Linked DNA regions of Homo sapiens: regions 1, 2 and 4 are each reported to be linked to region 3. Evidence: microRNA targets listed by miRTarBase, many of them from high-throughput screens and not tested one by one. Region 3 holds a microRNA gene; each other region holds the end of a gene's coding sequence.
Evidence for each region. Region 3 holds the annotated microRNA hsa-miR-4638-5p (ACUCGGCUGCGGUGGACAAGU, at 1,146-1,166, opposite strand). A microRNA usually pairs through its seed, bases 2 to 8, with sites in the 3' UTR of a target mRNA and lowers its output. Matches are read on the target gene's strand: a 7mer-m8 pairs with bases 2 to 8, a 7mer-A1 pairs with bases 2 to 7 and ends in A, and an 8mer does both.

Region 1: miRTarBase lists TNFSF14 as a target of hsa-miR-4638-5p. Seed matches in the 3' UTR shown: 8mer at 6,340-6,347.
Region 2: miRTarBase lists PACS1 as a target of hsa-miR-4638-5p. The part of its 3' UTR that is shown has no 7-base or 8-base seed match.
Region 4: the mRNA of MREG is a reported target of hsa-miR-4638-5p. Seed matches in the 3' UTR shown: 8mer at 6,428-6,435.

Annotation. Positions count from the first base shown.
Region 1 is chr19:6,658,265-6,665,491 of GRCh38, forward strand. It overlaps TNFSF14 (TNF superfamily member 14), which reads right to left. Exons shown (of 4, transcript NM_001376887.1): 4 at 2,989-7,086. The coding sequence ends at 6,662. Among named protein-coding and RNA genes, the nearest start is that of TNFSF14, 8.3 kb to the right of the region's middle.
Region 2 is chr11:66,242,998-66,250,267 of GRCh38, forward strand. It overlaps PACS1 (phosphofurin acidic cluster sorting protein 1), which reads left to right. Exons shown (of 24, transcript NM_018026.4): 23 at 1-34; 24 at 168-1,747. The coding sequence ends at 283. LOC124902694 reads right to left here. Exons shown (of 3, transcript XR_007062737.1): 2 at 3,179-3,376; 3 at 1,713-2,115. It also overlaps a transcript of KLC2 not described here. Among named protein-coding and RNA genes, the nearest start is that of KLC2, 11 kb to the right of the region's middle.
Region 3 is chr5:181,221,467-181,224,466 of GRCh38, forward strand. MIR4638 (microRNA 4638) reads right to left here and starts at 1,167; the gene lies at 1,100-1,167. It overlaps TRIM41 (tripartite motif containing 41), which reads left to right and starts at 1,815. Exons shown (of 6, transcript NM_033549.5): 1 at 1,815-3,000. The coding sequence starts at 2,534. TRK-CTT2-3 (tRNA-Lys (anticodon CTT) 2-3) reads right to left here and starts at 585; the gene lies at 513-585. It overlaps TRV-CAC1-5 (tRNA-Val (anticodon CAC) 1-5), which reads right to left and starts at 1,001; the gene lies at 929-1,001. RefSeq lists silencers at 394-603, 854-1,083, 2,354-2,563 and enhancers at 1,814-2,043, 2,711-3,000.
Region 4 is chr2:215,937,618-215,945,360 of GRCh38, forward strand. MREG (melanoregulin) reads right to left here. Exons shown (of 5, transcript NM_018000.3): 5 at 4,967-7,380. The coding sequence ends at 7,246. Among named protein-coding and RNA genes, the nearest start is that of MREG, 72 kb to the right of the region's middle.

The sequences.
Region 1 (7,227 bases), not on the chromosome of region 3:
CAGGCACAACCAACAATCTCGGGCTAGTTGAGGCCGGGTGAGATTAAGGAGGTGCTGTACCCTGTCCAGAATGGACATCAGGCTGGGTTGGAGGTGTTGCCGTTGCAGCTGAGGTTTAGAAACCAGGAACGGCGGTGGGAAAGTTAAATCGACCCTGTCTGGGTGTTTTGGGAACATAGGATTACCTAAATCAGTTAAAGGTCCGATTGGCTTAGGAGAGCTCTATGGGACCAGGATTTTTTTCTGGATGGTGAACATAGTTCCAACATTAAATCCTGAGATATAAAGCCTTAATCCCCATGACATGCCATAATACCATTGAGCTGTACCAGGGTTATGGATAGTTGTAGGAAGAGGGTTGCAATTTCTCATAGTACACAGTCTAGGATGGGAAGTGCGAGTTATGGAGAGGGTTGAGGACTGGGTTGATCCTCCAGGGTAAGTGGCTAGGGTTACACAGGACCAGCGAGGGCAGAAAAACTGATAAGAATCTTGACAACTTCAGTCAGGGTGATTTCCAAGACAGAGGTAAAAGTCAGCCTCCTGGAGTCCTTTTTCTGCACCTTTAGAGCTTCCACATGCAGTCCGGCTTCCTATGTGTCCAAACCCTGCTGCAAGGTCGACGTTCCCTGTTCCCATGACCGGCAGATTGCGTTGCTCTTCACGGGTGAGGGCAGGCTCTGGGAACAAAGCACATAAATCGACTGCAAAAGAGACTTCCTTGGAGGTCCCCGCCTTCCAGGTGGTGATTGCAAACACACGTCCTGTCGTGAAAGAAGTAAGGAGAAAAGAGTAGGAAGGAGCAGAGGGCATGACAGGTGGAAACAAACAAAAGAGGTAAATAAAAAGAATTAATCCAATGGCTTCACTCGACTTAGGTGCAGTTTTAAGGGGCCCGACCCAGGCTTGGGGTCTGTGCTGGGGTCTTGCTTGGGGTCTTGCTGGACTTTGTTGGCCTTTTTGATGTGAGAGTGATGAACCCAAGCAGGAATGCTGTCCACTTTCAGATCTGTCGGCATGGTGAGGATGACAGTATGAGGTCCTTTCCAGGCAGGAGTGAGTCCTTCCTTCTGGAACTTTTTTTTTTTTTTTGAGACGGAGTCTCGCTCTGTCACCCAGGCTGGAGTGCAGTGGAGCGATCTCGGCTCACTGCAACCTCCGCCTCCTGGGTTCACACCATTCTCCTGCCTCAGCCTCCCGAGTAGCTGGGACTACAGGCACCTGCCACCACGCCCGGCTAATTGTTTTGTATTTTTAGTAGAGACGGGGTTTCCCTGTGTTAGCCAGGATGGTCTCGATCTCCTGACCTCGTGATTCACCCACCTCGGCCTCCCAAAGTGCTGGGATGACAGGCGTGAGTCACCGCGCCCGGCCGAGAAATTTTGTAACATGCGTTGGAGAGGGCTCCAATCTCTACAGGGCTGGGAAGAAGAGTTTCCCATTCTGGAGGCAATTAACAAGGTTTAAGCAGAAATATAAAACCCAGCACGGACAGAGAAATTCACGGCCTAGAGGGCTGCAGTATCGGAAGAACAGAGGTAGATGTGCGGGGTAAGGGATGGGGATGAGGAGGAAAAGGGGCCACTCGGATCTTCTCAGGCTGGGAGGAGCCGTGCTGGGCAGCGCTGGGTCGCCAGGACTACTCCGCAGTCCCCCCGCCCCGCCTCCAGGCCCCGTCAGGCGCTGCAAGCCCAGCTCAGAAGCCCGGGCCCGGGACCAAGGTCACCGCAGCAGTCCGGGCCCCTGCGTTCTGAGCCGGGTGCGGACGCGCCGGTAGTCGGGGAAGTCAGGGTCTTTGACGCCTGAAGGCGCAGGAGCGGGGGTCCCTGGGGGAGAGGGTCCAGCACCGTCACCTCCCACTCCTCATCCGTGGGTTGGGGAGCCCCTGCTGTGGGGGAAGGAGGCTGTTTCGTTTGTAAACTGGCGGAGGAGTGGCCCCTGGGCCTGGCAACCCGAAGAGACACGCCTGAGACCCCCTGTAATAGAAAATCTGCACTAAAGGACTTTGAAGAAGTCCTTGCCCAGTCGTCTTGGGCAATATGGGTGACCTGACCCATGAAATTTAGACAGACACCAAACAGGACAATAGACACTAAACAGGACAATAGACACTAGGGTATATAGACAATTATGACAATTTTTATAGACAGACAAGGGGTGGGGGTCCCGTGATGGGATCAGTCAGATGCCCGCCTGGCCACTCCCCTTGTGAGGACTCAGGCTCCTCTTAGCTTTGGCAGGCCGGTATAAACGCCCGTTCAGATCCAGCTATGCTCAATGCTGCCCTAAGCCTTATGAGGTCACCACGGAACCACAGGTGAGGGCCCACTCGAACTCTGTAGCTTTTGCCGTGGAGCTACAAACTGAAAATTCAAGCGCGAGCCCTTGACCTCCACATTCACTCACTCACTCACACAGAGTTTATTACAATTCTTCAATACCCGTTTTAAAACAGAGGTCTCCTTGAGACCTCAACGAGAGGAGAAGAGATAGAGAGAGAGAGAAAGAAAGAGACTAGTCTTACAGAGATGCCTGACAGAAACCAGGACTCTGTCCTCCAGCATCCTGGAATTTGGACAGAGTCAGAGGGATGCCCTCATCAGAGCCGCTTCCCTCCCAGAGAAACAGAGTCAGACAGAAACCAGGACTCTGTCCTCCAGCGTCCTGGAATATGGACAGAGTCAGAGGGACGCCCTCATCAGGGCCACCTCCCTCCCAGAGAAACAGAGTCAAATCTGACTTACCTTCCCGGGACCAGACACTGAGGACTCAGGAGTTGAATTTGGTTGAGGACACCGGCAGCCGATCCGTTCCCCTCTGGAAGACGGTGGCCTACACGTCCCTGGAACGTCTTTAGGTGGCGCCTCCCCTATAAGCTCGCCGTCTGTCCAGGGGAGCCCGGAACGGGTCCAGATTTCACCCGGTGGCGGATCTCGCTGTGGCCTCCAAATGTTGTAACTGAGTGAGTTATAGAGAAATGCCACACTCTTAGACTAATTCAGGAGTCCTTTATTAGCCGGCGACTGAGAGACGGCTAGCGCTCAAAATTCTCTCCACCCCAAAGAAGGGGCTAGGTTTCTTTTTATACCTTGGTTTAGAAGGGGAAGAGGGAGCCGAGCTGAAGCAATTTTACAGAAGCAAAACAGGCAAGAAAGTGAAAAAGATAAATGGTAACAGAAAAACAAACAGTTCCAGGTGCAGGGGCTTTAAATCTATCACAAGGTGATAGACGCGGGGGCTTTGGGTGCTATCAACCGGACGAATTCCTGGGAATTGTGGATATAGCTTGTCACAGTATCTTATCAGTAATCGCATTCTTGGATGTGCTGGGAGTCAGCTTAAGTCCTTGAGGAAGGGGGGTGGGTGAGAGACTGCAAGCGAAGAAGCCAAAATAGAGTCTGCCTGGCCCTCTCAGCTAAGGGAGAGTCAATCACGTTAAACACAAGGTAGGGTATCACATTGGAATTACAGGCATGAGCCACTGCACCCAGCCGACATCACCATCCTTCCTGACTCTGAATTTATATACTACTAACCAGCAATCATTTTCCTCCACCTATTCAACACAGAAGTACCTAACAGTAAAAGATGAGAGATACCTATCTGGCATGTGAGAAAATGATATATAGCTACTGACGGGGATTTCCTTTGAGGATGCTGAGTAAACTTCGTGGTGTGTGCCTGCATTTCCACTGCAATCTATCACATGTGATGAGTTGTGGAATTTCCCACTTGTGGCATCACACTGGGGCTCAAAGAGTTTCAGATTTTGGAGCATGTTTTTTTGTTTTTTGAGATGGGAGCCTTGCTCTGTCACCCAGGCTGGAGTGCAGTGGTGTGATCTCAGCTCACTGCAACCTCAACCTCCAGGGTTCCTGCCTCAGCCTCCCGAGTAGCTGGGGTTACAGGTGCCCCCCACCACACCCAGGTAATTTTTTGTATTTTTAGTAGAGATGGGGTTTCGCCATGTTGGCCAGGCTGGTCTGGAGCTCCTGACCTCAGGTTATCCGTCCACTTTGACCTCCCAAAGTGCTGGGATTACAGGTATGAGCCACCACGCCCGGCCTAGATTTTGGAGCATTTTGAATTTGGGATGGTGAATCTGTACTGTTGTTCCTCTCCCCCCACAACCATCTTGCCGATGGGGAAACTGAAGCATTGAGAGGTGATGGAAATTGCTGGAGGTCATATAGCTGGTGAGTGGCAGAGTGGACTCAGAACCCAGGATCATCTGATTGCAAAATCTGTTTCCTTCATCTCTGTACTGTGCAACAATGACAAGAATACTATTGGCGATAACAACAATAACCCACAAATTTTGACTTGTCATTCACAACAACAACAAAACAATAATAACAATACATTCACCTCTGGGGTCGAAACCCATATCCTAGAATCCTAGGAACTAAGGATTCCCTCCAGCCACACTGCAGCAATGCTCATTTGCATAGACCCTCTAATTTGTATGCATATCATTATCTGCCCCCACCCAACCCACCAGCTCCCTGTGTTTTATGCTTCCAGCTGGCTTGGCGGATTGTCATTCTGTCCTGGATGTGTCTAATAAGGGCGTCTTGCGGGATGTAGCCTCTACTTCCTCAGGAATTGTGGATTGGAGAGGAAGCCAGATCCAGACGTGAGGTCTCTGGTTTCCCCCACATTTCCTGCATGGACTTGAGCCAACTGGGTCCAGGTTCCTCATCTGTAGAATGACCTCCATGGGTCATTACCTCCATCCCTCTGCCTCTAGGAGCCACCACTTGTTGCTGATGGTTGCCCCCCATCCGACTCCTCCCTTTCCCTGTGGGGCTCTTTAGGCCTGACAATTCCTCTCCACCCTTCTTCAGTTTGTTCCCCTAAGAACTAGACAGATCCAGGTACAACTATTTGCCATTTATTTCAAAGATCAGTGGTTAAGAGGCCCAGGGTTATGAACAAGGTCTGGTCCTCACCCCGAGATGTGTTAGTCTGGGCTGGGGAGGGCCCTCAGGCTGTGTGTATATGTGTGTAATGTTGTGTGTTTGTCATTGTGATGTGTGTGTGATGTGTGTGTCATTGTGATGTTGTGTGTGTGTAATGTTGTGTTTGTCATTGTGATGTGTGTGTAATGTGTGTTTGTCATCGTGATGTTGTGTGTGTAATGTGTGTTTGTCATCGTGATGTTGTGTGTGTAATGTGTGTTTGTCATTGTGATGTTGTGTGTGTGTAATGTGTATTTGTCATGGTGATATTGTGTGTGTGTATGTGTGTAACCAGGTCTGACTATAACTTGGTCTGTCTGTGTCTAATGTAATGAGTATTAATTACCAAGTGTGACGGTGACACCTCTGGGAGTGGCTGTGTAGCTGGGATGCTGTCTGAGTTTTGTGTGCTTGTGTTATAACATACACACAGTGCTGTGACTGTCTGTGATGCCGTCTGTGACTTCCATGTGATTGTGTGGTTGTGCATGAATCTGGCACTTCGCGTGTATGAGTCTATAGTTGTGAAAGAGTGGCTGAGATTATGCAGCCATGTGACAGATTTTGTGGGATGCCATAGGTGTGACTGTAGAGTCATTCTTCCTTCCTTTCAATCAGCAAGCATTTCCCTAGAGCATGCTTTGTGCCAGGCCCTGGGCCGGATGCCGGGGACAGATCCGTGGTGTCCTATTAGGGATGTCTATGCTTGGCAGTGATGAAATCAGCCATGGTGGTAGCATTTACACCATGGAAATTGGCAAACATTACAAAGCTGTCCCCCTCCCAGGACAGCTGGTTGTTAAACAGTTATGAGCACGCTGCCGTGCTCATGTATCTGAGTGTAACTCTTTGTGACCAGGCTGAGGTGTGGCCACCAGTCTGTGGGTGGGATCTGAGTATGTGGGGTGGGGCTGGGCTCTTCATGATGAGTCCCGATGATCAGTCTCCCGCCCACCCTGTCCGTACTCATGATGAGAGTAGGGAAGTGGATGAAGTTTCCCACCCCCAGCCAAGTCCCTGGAATCCCAAGCCCCACTTTCTTCTGAATCAAAAGCATAAATACCCACCCCTCACCCCTTCTTCCTGAATATCAGGCAAATCAACTTTACCCCATGTTTGGGGGCCCACAGACCCCAAGTCTCTGGGTTTTTGTCCTTAGTATTGTCCGTGGCAGGGTCTGCAGTCTACGTGGGTCTTCTGAAGGTGCCTGCTGGGGCTTCATCTCGCCTTGGTGGTGCCCACTGAGCTCTCCGCCTTTGAGTTTTGGGTTCCCTGGAGTGTCCCCCAAGATCTGTTTCCTGAGTTTTCTTTTTTCTTCCTTTCTTTTTTTTGAGGCACAGTCTCACTGCGTTTCCCAGGTTGGAGTGCAGTGGTGTGATCTCGGCTCACTGCAACCTCCGCCTCCCGGGTTTAAGCAAAATTATCCTGCCTCAGCCTCCTGAGTAGCTGGATTACAGGCAGGCACCACCACGTCCGGCTAATTTTTGTATTTTTAGTAGAGATGGGGTTTTGCCATGTTAGCCAGGCTGGTCTCGAACTCCTGACCTCAGGTGATCCGCCTGCCTTGGCCTCCCAAAGTGCTGGGATTACAGGCGAGAGCCACCACGCCCAGCCTCTGCTTCGTGAGTTTTCTTTCCCCTGAGGCACCCTCTGAGTTCTCCACGTGTCAGACCCATGTCCAATGCACCACGCTCCTTCCTTCACACCATGAAAGCCCCGAAGTAAGACCGGGTACCATCACGCAGTCGAACCAGGCGTTCATCCAGCACACGGACGACCACCTTCTCCCCAGCCTCCAGGTGTACCACACCACCCAGGAAGCTGCTGTCCCACCAGACCCGGGAGCTGCTGGTGGCCCGTCCGCAGGGTGACTGCTGGCTGACCAACAGCTCCAGCTCCTCGGGGTAGCGGGGTGTGCGCTTGTAGAGGCCGTGGGTGATGGTGCTGGCCAGGCCCAGCGGGCAGCCCACACCGCCCAGCTGCACCTTGGAGTAGATGTAGTAGTAGCCAGCTTTGGTGACCACAAGGGCCCCATCGTGGTAGCTGAGGCCCCTCAGGAAGGCCAGGCCCAGCTGAGTCTCCCATAACAGCGGCCCCCCGCTGCCGGTCAAGCTGGAGTTGGCCCCTGTTGGGAAGAGAGAGACAAAGGGGGCTGCCGGTCAGCACATGTCTTCCTCTGTTGCTTGTTTGTTTGTTTGTTTGACACAGAGTCTCGCTCTGTGGACCAGGCTGGAGTGTGGTGGCATGATCTCGGCTTACTGCACCC
Region 2 (7,270 bases), not on the chromosome of region 3:
TGCTCAGCCAAGCAGCAGCAGACTATGCTGAGAGGTGCGAGGGCAGGCAGGGCCGGGAGGAGGGCAAGAAAGGGACTGGAGAGGGAGGCAGGCAATGGCCTTTCCCAAGGGGCCCTGGGGAGATGGCCTGAGCAGTCTGGTCACCCCTCCTCTCCTGTCACCCCTAGTGTCCATCGATGGGGTCGAGTGGAGTGACATCAAGTTCTTCCAGCTGGCAGCCCAGTGGCCCACCCATGTCAAGCACTTTCCAGTGGGACTCTTCAGTGGCAGCAAGGCCACCTGAGGCCCTGTCTCCCAGCCACTTTCCCTCCTGGCACTGCCACCAGCCTCACCGCCTGCGGGCAGGGGGAGGCCAGCAGGCCCGGGCCCAGCACCCCTTCCCTGGCACCAGGGTCTGCCTCTCACTCGCCCAGGTCCCGAAGGACACTGCCACAGGGACGCCTTCCCTCCCCTCCCCTCCAGCCCACCCCTGCACAGCCCCTCCTCCTTCCCGCTTTTCCCCTTCTCCCTCCTGCTCCAGGCCCAAGGCGTGTTGGTTTTGCCTTCTGGTGCCCATAGTCCCCTGGACTGAGTCCCCCAGGCCTTCCTTCACCCGACTTCCAAACTCTTCCTTGTGGTATCAGTTTCCTTCTCGGAAATGAGAAAGCTGGAATCCTGGTCCCCAGCAGGAGAGCCTAGTCCTCCCCCAGCCCCTCCAGCCACCAGGGTGTCCTCTAGGATGCAGCTGCCAGATCCACTCACTCTGCTGCCTCCAGCAGGACCCAAGGCCACTTTCAACTCTTATGGGGTTCTCCACCTGCCCCAGAGCTTCTCAAGGGAGGGTAAGGGGGCACCCTGAGCCCACAGGACCCCTACTTCACAGCTCACAGGGGCAGGAGGCAGCTCCCCTGCCTCCAGGACCCTGTTGCTATGGTGACACAGCGTTTCTAGGACAGAGGGGCCTCCCAGTCTCCCCCCACCACCCGTGCACGACTTCCTCACCACCCCCAGGTTCCCTGCAGATGTCGTGTGTGTCCTGAGTGTTTCTTTGGTTCTTTGCACGCCAAGTCTCTTGGTTGTACCATGTGACACACCCTGTGCACTGGTCGCTGTCTTCGTGGCTTCCACCCTTGTTAATGATGCTCCTGCCTCTGCCTCCCAGCCCCTCACCCAGCACAGCTCTGCCTGGACTTGGAGAGATGGGAGGCAGACCCCCACCACCATACATGCTGTCTGTGGCCCCTCAGACATTCTGTTTCATCTCCCATTCATCTCCCTCCTCCCACCGTGTCAGTTTTTCTGCCTTTCCCTGCTCTGTTCTTCCCCCTCCTTAGGCCCCAGCCTGGGCCCAGACCCATCCTCCCAGCCAGGTTTCCCTCCAGCAGGCTCCTTCCCTCCCTGTCACCTCCCTCTCACCAACCCGGGGTCTGAGCCCCTCATTCCTGACCGTCCGTGTTCTCAGGAGTGGTTGAGGACACAGGGCCCCAGCCCAGCCCTCTGCACCCCCCAGCCCGGCCATCTGCGCCCCACAGCCCCTTTGGAGCTTTTCTCTTGTCCTCTCACTCCTTCCCAGAAGTTTTTGCACAGAACTTCATTTTGAAAGTGTTTTTCTCATTCTCCATACCTCCCCCAAGCTCTCCTCCAGCCCTTCCCAGGGCTCAGCCCTGCTGTCCTGAGCGTCTCCTGGGCCAGAGAGAGGAGATGGGGGTGGGAGGGACTGAGTTGATGTTGGGTTTTTCATTCAATAAATTGGTGATTTCTTACCGACTGCCTTGGGCTTCTATGCCCCCTCACTGTGCCACAGGAGCTGCCCAACCCCTTTTCCACAGTGCAGCCCAACTCCAGTGAAAATCCACCAGGAACGTAGGTGGAAAGAAGCGTACTCCCATGTTCTCAATCATGGAAACAGGCATGAAGGTGTCTCACCTGGCATGAGGCAGGCAGAGGTCGGAAACAGGAAAGATGTCATTTCCACACCAAAAGCCCGTTTTTCCCCAGGACCCACCATCCCCAAATCCACCTCCCAAGGCAGTGACGTGTTGAGTGTGGCTTCCCCATCTTCTGATCAAAGGTCAGAACTTAGCTTCTCTCCCCTGCTCCAGGTTGGTGAAGTCCGAGCCAGTGGGGTCTTTGCCTCTGCAGGTGGAGGGAATAGGGCTGAGGGACATCTGTGGAGTTCCTTTTCCTGCCCGCCCTTGACTTAGAGATGGAAAGCAGTGGTAGCCACTGTCCCCTGGGTGCCCGGTTTTTCCACTAGCTTCCAAGACAGGCCTGCACACACGAAGAAGTGTGTGCCTTCCCCATGAAGAAGTGCCCAGAGGTGGCCAGGCACAGTGGCTCACGCCTGTAATCCCAGCACTTTGGGAGGCCAAGGCAGGCGTTTTGCCCGAACTCAGGAGTTTGAGACCAGCCTGGGCAATGTGGCGAAACCCCGTCTCTACTAAAAAATATAAAAAATTGGCTGGGTGCGGTGGCTCACACCTGTAATCCCAGCACTTTGGGAGGCTGAGGTGGGTGGATCATGAGGTCAGGAGATTAAGACCATCCTGGCCAACATGGTGAAACCCCGTCCCTACTAAAAATACAAAGATTAGCTGGGTGTGGTGGCACGTGCCTGTAATCCCAGCTACTCAGGAGGCTGAGGCAGGAGAATCACTTGAACTCAGGAGGTGGAGGTTGCAGTGAGCCGAGATCGCGCCACTGTACTCCAGCCTGGCGACACAGCGAGACTCCGTCTCAAAAAAAAAAAAAAAATTTTTGCCGGGCGTGGTGGTATGTGCCTGTAATCTCAGCTACTCAGGAGGCTGAGGCACGAGAATCACTTGAACCCGGGAGGCGGAGGTTGCAGTGAGCTGAGATCGTGCCACCGCACTCCAGCCTGGACGACAGAATGAGACTCTGTCTCAAAAAAGAGAAGTGTCCAGAGGTGAAGGCTTGCAGGAGAGGCAGCGCTTGGCATCCTTGCCCTACAGGTATAGCCCCAGAGGAGTGGATGGCCATCCAGAGCTTGCTGTCACTGGCCTCAGTCTTGGGTTCCCCAAGCCCTGTGCCCAGACGACCTCACATAGAGAGGCTTGGGGACCCAGCTGTGTGGCCCTGCGCAAACTCTCTGAGCCTAGAAAATGAAAATCATACCTGCCTTCTAAATGAGGTGATAGCGGGGCTGGTGAGAGGAAAGGCCAGGAGAAGCAAATCATACCTAGTGTGACCTGGATCTAGGGTGTGAGTGTGGCTGCAGAGCAGGGTGAAGTGCCCACGAGGACTTCCCGGAGCACAGCCAGGCGAGGGCTGCAGGGCAGGAGCTGTGCAGAGCTGGGGGCCAGGGAGTTCCAGTGGAGGGGGTGGGACAAGTAGACTTGGATCCCAGCTTCTGGCCCCCTTAGGTTCTGGCTTAGAGCTAGGAGAGAGGGTGAAGGGTGAACTCTCAGCCCGTCTGCATCTGACACCATATCCTCAGCCTCCCCTTCTGTGGCAATAAATGCCCCACCCTGCTCCCATCCTCGGGGCCCATCCCTCTTCACTCCTTGAGGGCTTTTCTCCTACAGTCGCCCTCTCTCCTGCACTGCGGGTTCTCCCCTCTGCCAGGACTTTCCACCCACTTACATGCATCCCAAGTGGGTATAGCTCAATATCAAAGACCAGAGACTTCCAGATTCTCTTCAGCTGCCATGCCTTGTCTCTGCTCCCCTTAGAGCAAAACTCTTCCAAAGAGCTGTGTGTGTTCCCCGTCTCCACTTCTGCCCACTCCCTTCCAGTTTTTTCCTCACAATCCCACCAAAAGTTTCCTTTCCACAGTTGCCAGTGACCTGGGTTGCCCAGTCCTATCAGTAGCATTGGATGCAAATAATCACCCGCTTGAGTCTTTCCACCTGGCCTGTGGACAGCTCTGTGCTCTCCTCTCACCTCCCTGGCCTCTCCTTTTTGGCCTCCCTTGCTATGGTGTCCTCAGCTTCCCAGCCTCAAAACCCTGGAGGACTCGGGGCTCCAGCCTCTAATATAGCCTCCTCTCTCCCCACACTCAGCCCTAAAGGGAGCTCACTCGGCCCCATGGTGTGAAATGTGCTCCCCTGGGGAGACTTCCCTCCTAGTAAATGCAAACTCGGTTCTTCAGTTCCGAGGCCGAAAACTGGGGAATCCTCCTCGATTCCTGTTTCTCTTGTACCCACCATCTAATCCATGAGCAAATCCTCCAGGCTTATCCTGACAGTGCCTTGCCCCTTCCTCTACTGCGATTATCTCTTGTCTGGATATTGCAATAGGCTCCTAATTATCCCTGCTCCCACCCTCTTCTCCCTGTAGCCTGTTCTCCACTCAATAGCCAGAGATTTTTCAGAGCTGAGCAGATCGTGTTGGATTGCTGATCCAAACTGTGCAGAGTGTCCCACCTACCTAGGTGTGTAAGCTGAAGCCTTACCTGTGAGGGGCCCACATGGTCTGATCTCCCAGGAGCTGCTGGATCTTAATTCCTCTTACGCTTCCCCTCCTCACTGGCCTCTCAACATTCCTCAAACACCACTCAGCCTCAGGGCCTTTGCACGGACCTTTGGTCCTGTCCATCCTGCTGCTGCCCTCAGGCCCGTGTGGCTTGCTCCATCATTCAGGTCTTGGCTGAAATGTCACCTCAGGAGGCCTTCCCTTCTCCAACCCCTCTTTTTTTTTTTTCTTACTCATATTTCCCACTCCTTGGCATTAATTATTCATTTGTCTCTCCCACAAGAATGCAAGCTCCAAGAAAAGAGGAAATGTTTTTCCCTGTTGTATCCTTGGCACCCAAAATACTGCTTGGCCCATCACAGGTGCACAATAAATACTCGTTTGCAGAATGAAGTTCCCTCTTGCTGCTGGAATTGGGTTCCAAATCCAGATGTGCTACTCAAGACATTTTAACTGATGCCTTAGCCCAAAAGACACCTGGGTTTTCTCATAGGCTCAGAAGTAAGAAGATAGACTCCTACCCCGGGCAAAGAAGAGGAAATCAGCTGTGTAGGGACAGTTTGGAGCACAAGGCAACTCAGGTGGAAGGTGCTGACTCAGACCCTGAAGCAGCTGTGCCCAGTCACCAGGAGTTAAGGCTGGACCAGAGCAGAGCTGCCCAAGGTCCGCCAGAGACTAAAGGCTTTTTGATGCAGAAAGTGGAAGAGCCTCTATCTAACCTGCACGCCAACTCCAGACTGGTTTTATTTTTAAGTAAACTATTTTAGAATACCTTTAGATTTATGGAAAAGTTGCAAAAATAGTAGAAAGAGTGGCTATATACCGCCCTGCCAGTTTCCCTTACTGTTAACATGTTACATTCATGTGCATTTGTCATAACTAGTGAGTCAATCGTGATGCACGATTATTAACTAAAGTCCCTATTTTGGCCGGGCACGGTGGTTCACTCCCATAATCACAGCACTTGGGGAGGCTGAAGCAGGTGGATCATCTGAGGTCAGGAGTTCAAGACCAGCCTAGCCAATGTGGTGAAACCCCATCTCTACTAAAAATACAAAAATTAGCCAGGCGTGGTGGGCACCTGTAATCGCAGCTACTCGGGAGGCTGAGGCAAGAAAATCGCTTGAACCCGGGAGGCGTAGGTTGCAGTGAGCCAAGATTGCACCACTGCACTCCAACCTGGGCGACAGAGTGAGACTCTTTCTCAAATAAATAAATAAATGTCCCTATTTTATGCATGTCCTTAGTTTTTCCCTAATGTCCTTTCTCCATTTCAGACTCCCACCCAGAATGCCACACTACGTTTGGTCATTCTGTCTTCTTTTTTGTTGTTGATTTTAGAGACCAGGTCTTGCTCTGTTGCCCAGGCTGGAGTGCAGTGGTGCCAACCTAGTTCACTGCAGCCTGGAACTCCTGGGCTCAAGCCATTCTCCTACCTCAGCCTTCTGGGTATCTGGGACTACAGGCATGTGTCATTACACCTGGCTCTTTGTTTTGTTTTGTTTTCTTTCGTTTTTTTTGGTAGAGATAGGGTCTTGAACTGACCTCAGTTATCGATCCTCCTACCTTGCCTCCCAAAGTGCTAGGATTACAGGCGTGAACCAACACATCCAGCCCATTCTGCCTTCTTAGGATCCTTTGGGCTGTGACATTTTCTTAGACTTTTTGATCTCTATTTTTGATGACCTTGACAGTTTTGAGGAGTATTGGTCAGGCATTTTGTAGAATGTCCCTCAGTTGGGGATTGTCTGATGTTCTTCTCGTGGCTGGATGGAGGTTATAGGTTGTGGGGAGGAAGACCTCAAAGGTGAATGCCCTTCTCAGCGCAGCCTGTGAAGGGCACATGCCGTCAACATGACATCATGGATGAGGTTGACCTGGGCTCCTCACTGTAAAGTCCCACACACCTGCTCCCATGCTGTTCTCTTTGGAAGGAAGTTGCTGGTGCAGCCCACACTCGGGTGAGGTGTTGATTATCCCTACATGCATCATCTGGGATTCTGCTGTACAGGAGGTTTCAGACTAATCTTTAAACTGCTTCTTTCGCCACCCCTTTCACCTGCCGTGTCCAAGGACTGACAGCATTAATAGCTGTCACCGTCACCTACAGGGCATTGCCTTTGAGCCAGGCTGCTGCTGAGTGCCTTATATGGTTTATTTCATCGAGTCCTTAAAGCAGCCCTCCCTGTGAAATCAATTCTGCTGATGCTTCCTTTTGCAAAGGAGGAAACCAAAGGTCAGAGCCTCCCCTCCCAACTCTAGAGCCTCCCATCTAACCACTTATGTTGCGACCTGAACACTCACAGTCATCCCAGACTTCACATGGCCAAAGCAAGACTCCTGATTTCCCTTGATCTTCCCCAGTCGGCAATGGCACCAGCCTCCATCCTGTTACTCCAGCCAGAAACCCGGACTCATCCTGCGCCGCCCCTCCCAATCCATCAGCAACTCTTGTCCATGCTGCCTCCCAAACGCTGTTTCCAACTATAAGCCAGGGTACCTTCCTCGCATAGAGTATCCTTTGTCGTCCTATCCTCCCAGTGCCCTCTGAATAGAGGCCAACCACCGTCCACCAGGCCCGTGGTCTGGCTCACTACCTTCACTTCTAGTTGCTTTCCCCCTGCCATGCTCACCACCCTCGAGCCACACCTGACCTTTCAGTGCTCACATCCCTCTTCCAACCCCAGAGTAAGCTCCTTTTCCTTTAAGATGTGGCCTTTGTATCACCTCCTCCAAGAGCCTTCCCCAACCACCCCACCCAAAGCCTGGTTGTTAGCCTCTGTCTCTTCAGTCATAGAGTTCACTATTACCTGCAGCAAATGTCTCTGTACCACATTCGAATGAGAGCTCCAGGAGG
Region 3 (3,000 bases):
GGTCGTAGCGAGACAAAGGCGGAAGCCTAACCACTAAATCTCCCAGTAAAGTGGGAGTGAATCAGATAGGTTTTGACGCTCACGAACGCCTGGGGTCGTCCTGCGGTCTCACCCCAGTTTCGATAAACCACATTGTTCCCTCCAGCACAGCAAGTCTCACAGCAAGACGGGGGCAGGCCGTCTGGTAAACATAAAATGCCTAATATGTGCTGCCCGTGGGCGAGTGGCCTACAGCAAAGGGTCATGCATGCACGATAGCCCGCGGTGCTGGCCTGCAGGAATTGGTCCACAGGTACCCGCCTCTCATTCTTTCTTTGAGAGTTAGCGAGGGTGCAAACGTTGTGAGAATTCTGCTCGGGGCCTTCCACACACGGATCGGAGAACACCAGGTTAGTCCAAGTTCTAACACCCACTGTTGGTGAATCTGCTACCCACTAGGTCTTGGTACAGAGAATACCATTTGTGCACTTAGGTAACACAACTTGCCTTAACCTTTCCAAAAAGCGAAATTACGCCCAACGTGGGGCTCGAACCCACGACCCTGAGATTAAGAGTCTCATGCTCTACCGACTGAGCTAGCCGGGCGGCCATGTCTGTATTCTAACTTTGTCTCTGAAGATGGAGGTTACCCTCAGAGGTGTAAGCACGTTTCCACTGTGCAAATACTAAGAAGCGCCTGCGCCTGGCTCTGTTCTAGGCACTAGAGCCGAGGATCTGAAATCTACGGATTCCTGTACATGTGATGGCTGCATAGGCTTCAGAAGGGAAGAGCAAGAGATTAGGTGAGGGGCGAGACCTGAATTTACTTGAGTAGTGCTCTCCTTCAGTTTTGCCCCAGTCCGTGTTCCTCCGAAGCGCAGGGACACACATGTCCTTCCTGCCACGTAAGGCCGGCCTCGGGAGAGAATCTCCCGAACAGACCAAAACGTGTTTCCGCCCGGTTTCGAACCGGGGACCTTTCGCGTGTGAGGCGAACGTGATAACCACTACACTACGGAAACCACCTTGGCTACTTTCCTGCCGGCATCGTCCTGAAGACACACACGGCTGAGACGGCCGGGATAGCTCTAGGCAAGCGCCCTTGTAGGACAGGCCCGGGGACCCCTGCCGCGGCCGGCTGAGCGGTGTCCAGGTTCTGGAGCCGGACTTGTCCACCGCAGCCGAGTCCGCAGGTCCTGTAATGGCCTAGCATAGTTCACCCACGAGGGTTCGTGGTTTTTGGCGCGTTTGATCTGACATACTCAGAGGCCTGACCACCCCCCTAGGAAGCGCGACGTCCATCTGGAGTTTTCCCGCGAGCCGCCTTGAGAGCAGGGTAAGTTCTGCAGGCCCAGCCCTGGCGTCACGCTGTGTCTGGCACTCACTGGAGATTCTGTACATAAATCATGGCCCCGTCATTTTTCTCGCATCAAACAACATTTATTTATTTATGTATCGACATCAAATCTCTATAAAAATAAAATTTAAAGAGCTATTTAAGCATCAAGTATTATTTCTACCGCACAAAGCATCTATTTTTGCAGAGATGCTGTGAGAATGTAGATGTAATGATTCGTCACCACTTCTTCACTGCTGGGCAGTTAGGGAAGTTCATCTAAACCATGAGACAGTGTCCGGTTGGCAGTTTCTACCTCGGATGCGAAACGCCGACTACAGTTGGGGAAGGGTGGGGCGTCTGCTGCCCTAACCCGCGAAGCGCTTTCTCAGGCCCCGCCCCCGGTCCGACCCGGACGACCCTCTGAGTCCTCCACAACGAAGTCGTCTGCCTAGAAGGGCCGGAAGTACTTCAGGGCGCGCCGCGGACCCACCCCCTCGCTTCCGGCATCGGCTGTGGGGAGTACCGGCTGCAGTCGGCTGTGCCGGGAGGGTAGGATGGCGTCTGGCCGATGCGGTGATAGCACCGAAAGCAGACGGCCGCCAGGCGCTCCCCCTACCCCCCGAAGTTTCTCCCCAGCGGCGGGGGATGGGGGTAGGCGGTTCCTCTGTTCTTTCTGCGTTCCCCGCGGCCTCTTACCACAGAGACGCGGGCCTCCACCGTCCTAGCCCTCCCGCCCTGTTCTCTAGTGCGGACTAGAGCGTCTCCTCGCCATTTCCTGTCGCCCTGGGGCCCCGCGGGGAAAAAGGGGGAGTAGCAGGACAGCGGAGGGAAGTCGCGAGCTTAGGTGGTGTGTAGACGCCGGAAGTGTTGGGAAGGAGGCCGGAAGCTAGGGGCGGGGCCAGGAAGTGAGGAGGGGCGGGGGTTTATGAGGAGTCCAAGGGAGCATTGGGGCAGACTTGTACTCAGAGCCACCTGAGGGACTTGGCGGTGGCGCCCAGCACTGTCCCCTCCCCTCGTAGAGACACGGTTGTCGTTTGGGAGTAGGGAACACTGTGTTGGGGTGGGTTGTCGGCAGGACATCTCTCTGGCTGCTCTTGGGGCGAGGTGTGGAGGGGCAGGGCTGGGGGTGGAGCCGGGTCGCCAGGGCGTCGGTAGGGAAGACCCCCGCCCCTCGCCCCCCCACCGAACCTCTACACTGGCTGGCTGGACACTAAGATGGCTGCCGTTGCCATGACACCCAACCCTGTGCAGACCCTTCAGGAGGAGGCGGTGTGCGCCATCTGCCTCGATTACTTCACGGACCCCGTGTCCATCGGCTGCGGGCACAACTTCTGCCGAGTTTGTGTAACCCAGTTGTGGGGTGGGGAGGATGAGGAGGACAGAGATGAGTTAGATCGGGAGGAGGAGGAGGAGGACGGAGAGGAGGAGGAAGTGGAGGCTGTGGGGGCTGGCGCGGGGTGGGACACCCCCATGCGGGATGAAGACTACGAGGGTGACATGGAGGAGGAGGTCGAGGAGGAAGAAGAGGGTGTGTTCTGGACCAGTGGCATGAGCAGGTCCAGCTGGGACAACATGGACTATGTGTGGGAGGAGGAGGACGAGGAGGAAGACCTGGACTACTACTTGGGGGACATGGAGGAGGAGGACCTGAGGGGGGAGGATGAGGAGGACGAGGAGGAAGT
Region 4 (7,743 bases), not on the chromosome of region 3:
TTAGAACATAATTCAGAAACTAATGATAAAAGGTAAATGTAAAACTTGAGCATCTTTGTCCTTGAGAATTATGTCCCACAACATGAACTCAGCCAGTATCAAAGGCATTCAAAGATGCCTTTCAATCCATTTTGCCTCTATTACAAATGCTGCCATGTGAGACAGAGACCCAAGGATAAAAGCTGACAAGTAGTAGAGAACAGAAAAGCCCCATAAAACAGATGTTTTAAACATGAAGCAGGTGTTGATGTTTATTTATACCTGGCTGCTGCATAGATTGACATTCTTAAAATTTCAAAGTAGAGTTTCTCCCCCACAGACAAGGGACAATGAAAACAAATAGACAAGTCACAAAAGAAATAAAAATGGTAAACAAGCATATGGAATAATGTTCAACCTAACTAATAAACATGCAAATTAAATCAACAAGGAGGTACCAATTTTTTTCTTACCAATTTTTTTACTAGTGTATTTTTCTGTGATGACAAAGATATAGTGAAACTATATTCTCATACATCACTGGTAAGTGATAGCATAAATTTGTACAGGTCTTTTGGAAAATATGTAATGATAAGCATAAAGAATGATTTATATATTCATGACCTTTGATTCTGCAATTTCACTAAGAACACAGGACAAAGCAATATGCATGAAGATGTTCACTGCAGAGAAAAATTGGAAACAGCCTCTAAAAGTCCAGAAATAGATGAAAGATTGTAAACTTTGTTACATCTACTCAAATATTATATAGCTTTGTAAAAATGATGTTCTCAGAGGCTATTTAGTAACATAAAATGTTTATGACTTGTGAAATGTGGTAAACTACCAGATCATATATATACACACACATATATATATATATCTTTGGCTTATGCAATGTTTTTAAAATTTTAATTTAGTGAACATTTCCATACTGAGAAAATTTACACAAAAATATGTTTGTTTGGCTCTACTCAAAAAATCAGAATAACTGGCAAAACTGAGCCCTCGTACATGACAATTATTTGCAGCTGAGTAGTAACTCTTCCCTTTAGGACAAAAAATATATAACCCCCTTTGATCTACAGTCCCAATCCAATGGCTCGTGGAAGCATTTGAGTTCATAATCCCTGACCTAAATTTAAAAATCAGGGTTTAAAATTATACATATAGGCCAGGCACGTGGCTCTTACCTGTAATCCCAGCACTTTGGGAGGCTGAGGTGGGCGGATCACCTGAGGTCAGGAGTTTGAGACCAGCCTGGCCAACATGGTGAAACCCCGTCTCTACTGAAAATACAAAAATTAACCAGCCGTGGTGGCAGGTGCCTGTAATCCCAACTACTTGAGAGGCTGAGGCAGGAGAATTGCTTGAACCCGGGAGGCAGAGGTTGCAGTGAGCCAAGATTGCGCCACTGCACTCTACCCTTGGCGACAGAGCGAGACTTCATCTCAAAAAAAAAAAAAATTATTATTATACATATAAATTTTAAATATGCACATAAAAAAGAATGAAATATCCCAAATTGCTACGAATGCTTGGTTGTCTTACAGTTCTGATATTATAGTTGATTTTTTTTTTAATTTTCTGCACTTCTCTTTTATTTGGAAAATGGGTTAGAAATTAGAAATTAGAAACCTGAGCCAATGTGACCTCTCAGTAAATGTCCAGTCTTTTAGTAAATACCAATAATCTCCAGCAACAAAAAAAATAAAGTGAAGACGATATATTTATTTCCCCATAATCTTGTGACCAGGTGGCGTGTTACAATGAAAGCAAGTGTTGCCCCAAATTCTTCTAAACGTACAATTGTTATTGGCCAGAAATTCTACCTTTGCTTCCTGTAATCCCAAATAAGTCCTCCTTTCTGTTCTCAGCCACAAATATTGAAATAAAAATGGCAGTGAAAGTTTCATTCTTAGGCAGACACAACAATATTCCAATAATAAGATCCGACAACATATCGTCAGGTGTGTGAAGTAGGCAGATAAAAAACAAATGGAGCTCTAGGCCTTGAGTACTGCTGGGTTTGACAGATTTTTAGTATCTTCTTCCTAAAAAAGGTGATGGAAACCAGACAGAAAAGTATTCCTAGTATCATTTACACAGCTTAATAAACTTTCGGATACAAATTTTGATGAAGATAATTGAAATGATTAAGCAACCATCTCTAGAAAGTGGATTCCTGATTAAGATACTTCAAATGCTAACTATATGTCTCTAGAATATATGATAAAGTTCAGTTACACATATGCATAATTCACACTACATGTTTAAAAATGTTTAAAATAAATTGCTGCATAAAAACTACAGATGTTTTTTTAAAAAGTAATGATCTATAGGCCTAAGCTTCCTCTAGCTATTATGTCATTATTTTATTTCTGTATTTCTAATTCTATTCTCTCCAAATTTATTATCTTTAAATACTTAGAACATAGGTGAGAAACAATATCAAATAAATCCGCTATAGCTAATAAGTGATTAAATGATGAGACTCAAGCTAAAATCTGGTTGCCTGACTTAGTTCTCCACAACCCAGTGTTCTAAATCCATATGTTTAAGTGACTTGAAAACTGGATACCCAAATGTCCATCCATAGTGTGTCAAAACAGAAGATGGAAGAATATTCTAGAAGTTAATAACACTTGCTGAAACATTGTAAATAGCAAGTTCAAAGTGGCTACCCATTTTCATCCTGTACGTAGTTGTGATTTAGAAGTTATGAGAGTATACTCCCTTCACTGCAAAATATTTCTTGTGATATTAGTAATAGAAAGTGATCCGAGGAAATGAATAAATACATTAATTCAATGGAAAGGAAGCCAGGGTTGTGCCATGATCCCTCTCTGGGCATTGGAAAATAGTCAGATAAATTGGTTTCTGCTGCTACCACTGCAGTTCTTTTCCAAAAGTTACTGCCATTAGTCGGATAACTCCTAGGGAAACTTAACATTTAATGTCTTCACTAAAGAAAGGACACTTGATGATGGTCTTGAAAAACCATCACATTGGAAAATATGTGATAGTGATTGTATTGGCAACTCAGATACTGTCACAGTTGGGTTCCCTGAGGGAAATTATTTTGAAATGGAGATTGGCATGAAAGAAGTCTATTAGCAAATTCCTGTGGAGGAGAGAAGGAAGACAGGCTTGGGGAAAGGGAGAGATTTTACTAAGATGCAGTCACAACAAAAGCCTCAGCCAACCTAATAGGGAACTCTGGAGCAATGTAAGTGTATGTGTGTTGTGTGTGTGCGCGCGTGTGTGTGTGTCCATCATAAATATTTTCTATCTCAAGGGAATACAGTTTTTGATCTACCATTCTGATGGGTGGGGGAAGAAAACATTTGACAGATCAGTGGCCACAAACCATGTAGCTGACCTTGTCTTAGTCTATTCTAGCCAAGGTTTCACATCTGGTACAGACGCTGCAGTTACGGTTACTACTTGGCTGAGTTTTCAATAGTCCACTTTCATTCTCCAGTGTCTGGTTTTTACAGAGGTCAGAGTGGTGAATTAAATGGAATTATGATAAGGCTCAACATTCCCGCTTCCACATGGCTTTCCCTTTAAGAAAATTCTAACACACAAGCCAAGAAAGGAATGGCGGTTCTGTCAACTCCCAAGTATGTTCAGTCTGATTATTTATTCTGAAAGTAAGGAGATGACAGGGACAGGGAGTCTAAGTAGGGGGATGATTATTCTGAAAGTAGTAGTCGACAGGCAGACTACCATTGGGTAGAGCCATGAATTCAGTGGACCTAGTGTTAAGTAATACCTGGAAAAGAACTCCATTTATTACCTGAATCCCATATGCCCCTCACTCCAAAAGGTGGACTGTAGTGATACTCTGGTCCTGAAGTATCACTGTCAGCTTGGACCTTGTGTCTCAGCGCCCTCAGATTATTCATGTACTCCCCTTCCCCAGTGTACAGTTATCCAAGTAAATAACCATAGGGACATCATTGCCATACACACTTGCAGTGGTTTTACAAAGACCTTCTTGGAGACCTAGACTTTCCTTCAATCAGCAGTTTCTGCATTTGGAAAATAACAAAGGTCTGAAAATTTGGCAAAAGATTATAACCTTTTATTAAGGTGGCTGTGTCCTATCTCCTGATCACCCATCCTTGAGGTCTTTTGAAGGTATCGTTTGAGCAATACTCATTTTAGACTTATTTTGCTCCTAAAGATGGCATGTTCCATTAACTGTCTCCAAAGCTCTCTGCAGGAATCCTTCAACCTGGCCACTCATTGTGATAATTGTATCCATTTGTCTTCTGATAGTGACTCACTGCCATTGGGCCTCTGTTCTTCCATGTCCATTGCTGTCAGTGAGCTCACTTCTGTAACAGCATCTGGCCTTCAGAACTGCCACTGAGCTTCTCAGGGATGCTGGTGCCCTCTCACCAATGCATTCCTTATCCCTTTAGTACATGTGTCCTCTGTGCCTTCTTGGGTGTCCCTTTGCCTTTAAGAAAGCATAAATAATATTCTGTGCAACACATCCATGAACTGTAAAACCAGGTGTTTGATCTACTGGTTAGAGGGTTTTCTCCTGGTGCATTTTAAAATAAATATTAATATAAAAACTTCCATCCATCTACCACCCCAAATCAACCTGCATACACAGATGAGCCTTTAAGAAGTACTAAAGTAAGAATATAAAAAAAAATGAAAAAGGAGTACTAAAGTAGTCGACAGGGAGACAAAAAGTGGGAAACTCTCTGGCCTCCCACACTTCTGTGGCTACTGGTCCTGCCGAGCACACTGTGACATCTACAGTGGCCACCTGAGGCACCCCTGCGCCCCTCTCATGCACTGCCATGTCCACTGGACTTAACACACATCTAATCCTTGACTGGCTTTAGGATGATGGGAGGTCCTTAAACCCATGAGTGTTTCAGCCTCTCTGCCCTTTAATTTAAAGGGATTATGGAAAGAATATCTATCCCTTCTTATGTCAGAAATATAACACACATCCAGCTGAAAAGTAAATACAGGAGTCTTTTAATTCCTTGTAAGGAAAATTTCCTGGATAATTCCATGTATTTTAATAATCACAGAGATAGTCCTATCCTTATTCATTATCAAAAATACTGTGGTAACAATTTATAGATGCACACAATCTCATCTATTTTGACATAAAAAAGGCAGAAAGGCAAAATACAAATTCTGAGACCGAGAGTAAAACAATACGACATCCTTAGGTTTATTTATTTTATTGTTTGTTTCACTGTTTGAATGTTTATCTTGCGAGAGTCTACAGAATTGAGAGAAAATATCTGCAGGCTAATTTTACATAACATGAGGCAAAGATTAAGCACTAAATATAAAAAATAAAACTTTTAGCTTGCTTATTAAACTAGGAAGAATTTTCCTGAAACACAGCAGTTAAATTGGTCTACAATGCATTAATAAATGGAGAACACGGATCTCGCCTATGAAATATTTTAAACATTGTGGACGCTACCAAAAAGCTCATTGGTATATAAAAATTTTCAAGTCACAGTCCTCTAAGCAGACTAAATACAAGTTAGTTTTTAACCTGAATTCAGAAGTGCAAAATCTGTAAAAATAAAAATATTTCCATTTTTCTCAGCAATCTATGGATTAACCTTACAAATCCTTAAAGTCTTTTCAGTAACATGAACCATGATCTCTTGACAAGTTCCTTGCTTAAGTGGCAAGTAACTTTTGAAGCTGGACTTCTCAATCTGTAGAGAGAAGCAAGCTGCATTCACAGCATTGCTCCCTTTTGAAAATTATCTTCTGAAGAGAAGAAGGTCCAGCAAAGATCTTCAGTGCAATACTCCCTGCATATGTGCAAGTCTGCATGAGAGGTCCCCCCACAGGTGCAGCTGCCAGCCAACGAATCAGAAACAGATGAAAGAGGAGAGAAGAAAACAGAGGTCAAACACTTCAGTTTACAGATGCTATTCCAGATAAAATGCCAAGGGCTTGGCCGGGCGCGGTGACTCACGCCTGTAATCCCAGCACTTTGGGAGGCTGGGGCAGGCGGATGACGAGGTCAGGAGATCGAGACCATCGTGGCTAACATGGTGAAACCCCGTCTCTACTAAAAATACAAAAAATTAGCCAGGTGTGGTGGCACGCGCCTGTAGTTCCAGCTACTCCAGAGGCTGAGGCAGGGGAATCACTTGAAACCGGAAGGCGGAGGTTGCAGTGAGCCGAGATCGCACCACTGTACTCCAGCCTGGGCGACAGAGCGAGAGTCCATCAAAAAAAAAAAAAAAAAAAAAAAGAGCGAAAGGCTTTTGGAATAGAAATGGACAATATACAAAGATGAGAGAACCAGATATCAATAATGTTGGGAATTTAAAATGCAAGTACAACACATGAATACATAACTCTTTTTTTTTTTTTTTTTTTTTTTTTTTGAGACGGAGTCTCGCTCTGTCGCCCAGGCTGGAGTGCAATGGTGCAATCTCGGCTCACTGTAACCTCCACTGCCCGGGCTCAAGCGATTCTCCTACCTCAGCCTCCTGGGTAGCTGGGATTACAAGCGCGTGCCATCACACCTGGCTAATTTTTGTATTTTTAGTAGAGACAGGGTTTCACCATGTTGGTCAGGCTGGTCTTGAACTCCTGACCTCATGATCCACCCACCTTGGCCTCCCAAAGTGCTGGGATTACAGGCATGAGCCACCACGCCCAGCCATTCCTTGTCATTTCTATCATTTGATACATCTATACTTCTGAATAATCATAACTGATACTCAAAGAGATGCCCTGACACCCTCCAAGGTTCTACAAGGTGACCAAATCAGAGAGGTCACCTCATGCCTAGTATTATTTTGGGGTTAGCATACATTTTATAATAATTATTTTAAAACTGGCAATCCATTTTGGGACTCAATGACAGCTCTCTCTATTAATCATATTGTTTTATTAACTGAAATAGTCCACTCAGTCAGTAGGATTAATGATCAGAGATTATGACACAACTAAAACCAAAGCTGGGGCAATGGGCTCTCAGAATGGAACCACCCATTATGAACTATCCATCTGACCAACTCTTTAACTTTCTTCCTAAATATGAGATCACCAAGGCGTTTCAATGCAGCCTGCACAATTCATGGGGCAGGGTCCTCAGATTAAAGACTTTACATTTATGTAGAATTCAGTATCATTTTTCACTAAGCAAACTCTATTTGCTCACTCTCTTCTACATGTAATTGTCCAACTTTGGTTGACTGCTGAGTCCTCATGGAAGAATTCCCATTCTGCCCCTGAGCCTCTCCTTTAGGGACTTGGAAACGGAAGGTAGTGCAGTTCTTTCTGGCCATCTGCCAGGCATGGAACCCCAGGCTTCTTGGGGTAAGTTCGACGAGCAAGCTTAAAGAACTCTTCTGCAGCATCAAGTGCAATGAGACGGTCCTGCAAAAACAAACAACAAACCAAAAAACTGCTGGCAAGATAGGAACCAAGACATGTCGATGGGAAAAAGCAATCTAACAACAACAAAACCCACCCTGGAAATGACAATGAGCAAGTAAGACGTTTATTAATTTTTTCCTAACAAATGTAGAGACACGCCTTAATCCTTTAGTTACATTATCCAAGAAACATTTCCCCACTCCTTAGCGTCCTTTCTCCTTTCAGATTATTTCTTAGTCTTATAGGTTAAATAAACAATACTTCTCACATCTCTTTGACCTACAAATGGTTCAGAAAATAGACTACACAGTAGAATTCACTGAAAAATACAAACTCTTGAGCTGGAACCCAAGCCTCAGTAGG